Homo sapiens: one gene and its partner. The protein of the gene in region 2 purifies or fractionates together with the protein of the main gene of each other region. This does not show direct contact. Each region holds a gene or a part of one and is shown on either strand. Other genes may lie near its edges.

Evidence for each region.
Region 1: the proteins of DMXL2 (region 2) and NHSL2 purify together in Homo sapiens (co-immunoprecipitation; one large-scale study listed by IntAct). This does not show direct contact.

Annotation. Positions count from the first base shown.
Region 1 is NC_000023.11:72,148,328-72,152,153, reverse strand, and holds part of NHSL2 (NHS-like protein 2), read right to left. Parts: 3' UTR 1-3,826.
Region 2 is NC_000015.10:51,497,132-51,500,957, forward strand, and holds part of DMXL2 (dmX-like protein 2), read right to left. Parts: intron 3,101-3,826; coding exon 1,421-3,100; intron 1,334-1,420; coding exon of another isoform or gene 1,248-1,333; exon of another isoform or gene 1,106-1,247; intron 1-1,105. UniProt on the Homo sapiens protein: May serve as a scaffold protein for MADD and RAB3GA on synaptic vesicles. Plays a role in the brain as a key controller of neuronal and endocrine homeostatic processes.

The DNA of each region.
Region 1 (3,826 bases), on a different chromosome or scaffold from region 2:
ACGTGAAGAAGCTTTAGAACAGAATTCATTTAGAGATTCAAAACACAGGAGGAGGTGGTGTGCTGAATGTCTTGTGGCTGTGTTGTTGCATGGGCAATCCCAAGGAGCCCATCCCAGGGGCTGAGGGTCCAGAAGGCAGGGAAAAACTGTGGGCACAGAATATCTTCTGCACCTCATTGGTTTTCTTGCTAAGGCTGAGTGCTCTGTCTAGAACAGGTCCAAACTGCATTAGGAAATGGATACATGGATATTCTAGGTTTAAAAACCAGCCTTTGGAACCTGGTGATTTCCCTAGGAAATCGTAGGCTGAACTGGAATCCTATGGCCTGGGCTGCCAGACTTTCCAACGACAGCCCTAAACTCATGATACTAGTATGAGGCAGGAAAGGGTGGACAAGGGTGGGAGTCTCCAACCACAGATATGAGGGAGAAGTTATGGAACAAAATAAGTAAGAGAACTCAGAAATTCTCTCCTTCCAGTTTATCCCAAACCCAGGGAAGCAGAGGCACATTGGGTAACAAGGATAGGTCTGGGGAAAAAAATGAGGGTTTCTACACTGAGGTAGTCAGTAATGAGAGAGAGAGAGAGCTCATGAAGGACACTCTATTGAAGAGTAATGGTTGGCATATGCAGCCCCCCTCCACCTGCTCCTGTGCAGTCAGTCTGGTCTGACAATGCAGTAGATGGGAAGGCAATAAACCACATCAGCTACTGCACAACTCAGTTATCACATGGGGCAGCTCACAGAAATGCTTGTCTCAGAAGACAGTCTGGATCAGGGGTCAGCCTAAGGCTTTGCATAGCCCATGAGCTAAGAATAGTTTATATTGGCAGGGTGCGGTAGCTCACACCTGTAATCCCAGCACTTTGGGAGGCCGAGGTGGGCGGATCACAAGGTCAGGAGATCGAGAACATCCTGGCCAACATGGTGAAACTCTGCCTCTACTAAAAATACAAAAAAAAAAAAAATATTAGCTGGGCATGGTGGCACGCACCTATAGTCCCAGCTACTCGGGAAGCTGAGGCAGGAGAATTGCCTGAACCCGGGAGGTGGAGGTTGTAATGAGCCGAGATTGTACAATTGCCCTCCAGCCTGGCTACAGAGAGAGACTCTGTCAAAAAAAAAGAGAGTGGTTTACATTATCCAAAGGTTGCAAAACAAACGAATGAACAAACAGCAACAACAAAGAAGAATGTGCTACAGAGACCACATGTAGCCCACAAAGCCTAAAATAGTTACTGTCTTAACCTTTACAGAATTTGTCAATCTCCCATCTAGATGATGGGGGAAACCTCACCAATCTCTGGTGAGAAGCCTCTAAGCATCCTCGAAAAGAGAAACGAGAGGAAGTCCAGGAGAAACAAGGGAACAATGGAAAATAAATGGAAATGCCAATCAATTTGACTAGTGTGGCTCTAAAAGATGCATGGCTTGCAATTCCACAGAATAGTAAGGTATGCATGTACTAAGGAAGGAGGCCCCAACTAAAGAGAGAGCCACACTAAGGAACATTAGGCAAAGAATGTTCTGGAAAAGAGACTGCATGCGGAGCTTAGTACTGATTAGGGAATTCTGTTATTGTTTGATAAGATGGAGCTGGAATTTGAGCCCAGGGATTGACAGAATATCAAGCCAGGTGAAATTTCTAGAACACAACTAAATATCTCATGAGCATTTAACAGTCTGAAAATTTCTCATAAAGATTAAGAAGGGAAGGCTAAAGTAGACTCTGGGAAAGCTAATATTGGTTGGGTTGTACCCTACTTTTAAATAAACACCAAATACAAAAGTTTGCACTAAAAAAAGTAGAGACATTATGGGACAATGACAAGAGGAATCTCGGTTTTTCAAAAAGAAGTCACCAGAAGGTTCCCTTACATAGGAAGTTTACCTCTAAAAAATGATACTTGATATCTAAAAAACTCATTTTTCACACAACTTTTAGGGAAAACATCCATTGTACTAAGTAGGGTGCACATATTGAATTTGGAGGGAAACTAATGTTTATAAACTGAAAATCCAATTTGTCTTTGGATTAATGAATTAAAGAACTCTTGAACATTTTCCCTTAAAGCATATATATTAGTTCATTGAAATACCTGGGAAATTCATGTGTCATAAAAGTAGAAGCCAGCTGTGGGTCTTCTATAAATTGTAGTGCTTTAAATGAAACCAGATTGGGCCCAAGGGCAGGAGACCTGGAATTGAGGCTGGGCCCCACCACTGACTCACTGTGTGACCTTGTATATAAGTTATTTGACCTTTCTGGGCCTCAGCTTCCTCATGTGTGAAATGAGAGAGGTTGGTCCCTTTCAGCTCTAACATTCCAAGACTGCAGATAAATATAGAAATAAGATAAATACAACAATCTAGAAATAAGAAATATAGCCCAAAGTAAGCTTTGGAGTCAGTAGAAAAAAGTAGCAGTGAAATATAATAAAAAGAATAAAACTTTAACCACTAGCCAGGGTAAATATATCTCATTTAAAAATGAATGAAAAGGTTTGTAATTTACAATTCATCAGAAGACCTCAGCACATACATATATTGATATTTCTTCGCCATGATACACATGGGGGAAGGAATGAGTTTGAGGTGACTTGTACAATGAGCACAATGCTGCGTTTGCATGCACAACATTTTATAAAATTGGATGTTAGAAAAAGCTCAAGACCACCTAAGGAATAAATGTCTATAAAGCTTGGCATTACAAAGAGGCTGAGAGGGGTTAACTAGTTGTTCCAGTTCAGATTTTGTTTTGGAGTTCGTTGCTATCAAATTCTACTATTTAGGCAAAAATCTTAAAATCAAATATACTTCTGCCAGAGCCTTACTGGAGAACAGCCACCACGGTAAAGACAGGTATTTAAGAGCTGGCAATACCAAACAAACTTAACACCTTTCCCTTTTTTCCATTTGTGAGTTAAAAAAAATCTTTTTTTTTTTTTTAAACCCAAAGCAGGCCAGATGGGCTGGCTAAGTCTAATCAAAGATTTTGCAGGTTGAGCAATTTGTTGATCCAATATGATAAGTTCTTTTTAATTTTTTTCGAGCATATGCACCGGAGTCCCATAAAACATGAGACTCCTCAATCTGATAATTTCTTAAAACCAAGCAAACATATGCCTGACCAAGATAACAATATACACCTCTTGGCCAGAGACTGGTCCTTATGATGAGAGCCAGAATAATGGTAAAGGTTGGAATCAGTTGGAGAGTCGTGGCTATAGTGATTCAGGGGCTTGAAGGAGTAACATCACTGGAATGCACATACACACACACACACACACACACACACACACACACACACATACACTCTCTCTCTCTCTCTTTCTCCCTCTCCAGGGATGCTGCTGTTGCTGCTCCTGGAACTGCACTTTGAGAACCATTGGCCTAGATTTTGGGCTTTACTGAACAAAAGTATAATGCCCATTTCACATTGCTCATTACTCATGCAAATTTCTTCTTGCTAACCTTATTAAAAATGCCCCAAATGTGTGTCTATAACTATTTACTATGTATTCCTCTATAAATCTGTTTCAAAGTATTCTAAAATTTGCTTATTTCATATTATGTTTATATCATTATACTTTTTGCTGCCTTTTGACAAAGGCACTTCCTTATACATCTTTCCCACTCTCTTATCCTTTTAAATCCCTAATATCCTTGTCACTTGTAGCTGAAATACATGCAAAGCCTTTGAAAGGATTGGGGGCTGTGGTATAGATATAGTCTCATTTTCACACCAAGCTGGACTGATAGCCCATAACAGAGATGAAGCAGGGAAAGCAGAAGCTTGTAAAGGTAAGCTTATTGGAGGTAAA
Region 2 (3,826 bases):
CAACTGCATACAACCTCATAATGGTTAAGATTTTTCTTTTCCAATTAATAGTGAGAAAATAAGTCATAGGCAAAACCCTAGAAGGTCTCTAGTTATTTTAACCTGCAGAGAAGAAAACTTTGGGGGATATACTATAAGGATGTAAATCTATATGAAGAGATATTTTCCAGCTACCTTTCCCCCACAGATCTGGAAATCATGAAATAGTTAAAAGGGTACAGGCTTTGAGTCAACAGTTTATCCACATATGAACTCCACTTCTACTCCTTAATGCCTATGTGATCTCAGATGAGTCCCTTAATTTCTTAAGGATCAGTGTCTTCATCTATAAAGTTAAACATAATAATAGCTATCTGCTAGAAGACTGTGATAATTAAATATGATAAAGTAAAGAAAGTGCCTGAAACATAGCAATTTTTCACTCCTCCAAAATATTTATTGAATTAATGAAATTCTGATCATTAATTTTCAGTTTCCTTTGCCAATGCCATCATTTACAATCAACACCATTACCCTGAACTATGTGCATAAAAGAGAATGGAATCTAGTTCCAGGAAGCAGCCAAAAATTTTCTAGTTACAGAATGAATTAGGCAAAATACGTATGACATTAACTGTATGGAAATCTCGCTGAAGAGACTTTTTGGAGAAAATTAGGTAATTGTAAAAAGTTGTTTATGGCTAGAAATGGGAAGACCAACAAGTTGAGCCCATGAGGTCCCAATAAGCCTCATGATTCCATAGTAACATTAACAAATGGGCTGTTATTATCAAAGAAAAAATCATAGGGATCAATCTGTGTTAAAAAACAAGAGACTTGGCCAGTCCATGGTGACTCATACCTATAATCCCAGCACTGTGGGAGGCCAAGGCAGGAGGACTGCTTGAGCTCAGGAATTCGAGACTAGCTGGGGCAACATAAGGAGACCTAGTCCCTACAAAAAAAATAAAAAGAAATTAGCTGGGCCCCATGGTGGTGCACACCTGTGGTCCCGGCTATTCAGGAGGCTGAGATAGGAAGATTACTTGAACCTGAGAGGTTAAGGCTACAGTGACCCATGACTGCACCGCTCAACTCCAGCTTGGGCAACAGAGCAAGACCCTGTCTCAAAAAAACAAACAAAAAACCCACCCAAACACACACAAAAAAACAAGATTATAAATCCAAAATGACACAAAGGTTTCAGTGTAAAAACTCATGAGAGAATGCACATGGATCTCACAAATCCATGCATTCATATGCCGGCCTCAACCGTCTTTTCTAACTGAGCATATTATATAATAGTAATTACCTATTAAGGAGGTCTTTTCCCTGCAAAGTTTGAAAGTTGAGACTGCAATTCAGTAAATGAGTCAGTATAGAGATAATACAAATATTTCTATTAGGTACAACTTTATAAATTTTTAGCGAGAATATTTACCTGAGCAACTCTTATCTCTGCTTTCATCAAGCTCAGTACTAGTAGTAGCCACTGTATCAGCCAAAGCTACAAGGAACATCTGCTCCAAACGGGTAAGGCCTGGTAGACTTGAGTGCATAAGATGACTTGAAAGTACCCTTGCATGTTCTTGGCCAAAGTAAGCTGGTCCATATTGAGAAAGATTTATTACTTTTGATTTGTTTTCTCTCTTTTCAGGCTCTAAATCAATATCATCCGTTGGTATATCCTGGATTTGAAACAGCTCTGAATACTGATCCTCTGGTTGACTTACTGTCTGATCTTCATAGCTCTGTGGTATCTTTGTACTTTCTTCTGAAATTCTGTAGGATGTATCTTGATCTGCAGCAAGTAATGCATATAGTGGTAGTGGAGGGATAGAATCTATCTCAGTATAATCTCGAGTACCATCTTTTCCTACGGTGACTGTTTCCTTTGCTGTACTGCCACTTACACTAATAGTTCGAGAGAGATGTCGCTTAGTTCCTTCTCCAGCATCAGGATCTCTAACTATTGCTACTTCACCTGCAATACATTTTACTAAATGAGAGAGAATGGCTTTAGCCCTTCGCACTTTCCCTAAATCCATCAATTCTAACAGCTGAGTTGGATGATATTGTGGAAGAGTAGGGGAAAGTACATGTGCAGCCTCAAATAAGCCACCATCTTGAATTACAGTTGGTGAACAAAAAACATCATCAGAAATAGCTGTTCCTTCAACAACACTTTTTCTTGCCAGCATATTAGATTTAAAGGTCGAATGATCTTGCATTGCTGCCTCTTCTGCATTAGAACTATCAGCTTCAGTGTCTCCAAATTTGACAGCATGCTTCCACTGTGCATATACATGCATTTCACAATCCATTCCTACCACCAATATCCCATCTCTTACCCAAGAGAGAGAAACAGGCAGTGAAGGAGTACCATCAACAGAAGATACCAAGTCTATAGATCTAAGAAGAACCCATCTTGACTTAACTCCTTGCTTGATACTACCACCTAGTGGTAAAGTGATGACAGCTACTCCATCCTTACTGTTGGTTTGCTCAGTCACAATTCCTGAAAGCCTTCCATACATGAAGATATTCGCACCGACTCCCACTGTAAGAATGTGGGAGCCATCTTCTTTTGATACCCAGTCCAAATGTACTAAATGTTTGATATTCGGAATAAGATATCTATCCTTGCTCAAGAGTGCATCTGACTTGCTATACACAAACAGATTACTGTCGACGCTGACCCTTGAATCAAGTACACTCCCAACCTTAACCAAATCATCAAGATGAATTGTTTGTTCTAAAACCCACTCTGATCCTCCTGTAGATTCACATTCAAATATACAAACATGCATGGAAAATTCTTTAGAAACAAAACCATTATGGTGGATAGGCTGCTTATAAGCCACTGCAAGGCGACCTGTGTATGAACAGCTAACAGCAACTGGTCTTCCCACAATGCTCACTGTACTGCTATTATCTTCTCCTTCATCATTCATCAAAGGCCATCTCTTCCAATGATAAATTTCTTTCTCATCACTTTTATTACACTCTGGGTTGGCTTCCATACAACATTTCCAGAAGCGTACTTTATTGTCAGAACAAGTTGTAACCACTAAATAAGGTGCAAGGCACACTGGATAAATTGAAGAAGAACTCAGATGGCCTTAAAAAAGAAAAAGCAAATAGTTAGTTGTAATAATAATAAAGCCACAAAATAATATGGTAGTAATCAAATTCTGGAATGTGATCAATTTAAAGTCACTATGAGCTTCTTCAGAATATCTCTGCAGTCTTCCTCTTAACTAGTATCCCACTAAATGTCCATTGGCCAACATATCTATAAAGGTCTTGAAGAGCCCATCAGTGAAATCAAGGTATGCAATAATAATCACTTAATTTGTTTTTAGGTAATTAAGTTTAAATGAGGCAACCATTTAATTAAAATAAAACTCAAAAGCACTGAAACAAGTCAGCCCTTAATGTGTTTCTATTATTTATATTTACCTTCACAACATGCCTCCTTAGAATTTCATACTATATATTTAATCATTTTCATCATGAATACTTAACTGAGCTTTACAATTTGCCTTTCAAATGCCCCTAACCTTCTCTCAAATAATCCAGACCCCAGGTGGTACACCAAATTTTGTTTCAGACCGCAAAACAGACCAATAGATCTTACCCATTTTACCAAGTTTAATTCATCCTCTCTTAGCACTGAACCAGAACCCTCTTATCTATTCCTGACTGCCAAAGACTAACAATGCACATCTGTTGTCAACTGTAAGACAAGGGGATATAGAGATTAAAGATCTGAGGTCAGAAGATCTGGATTTGAGTTTCAACCCATCAATAATTTCATTAACAGTGGGAAAGCTACTTAATCATC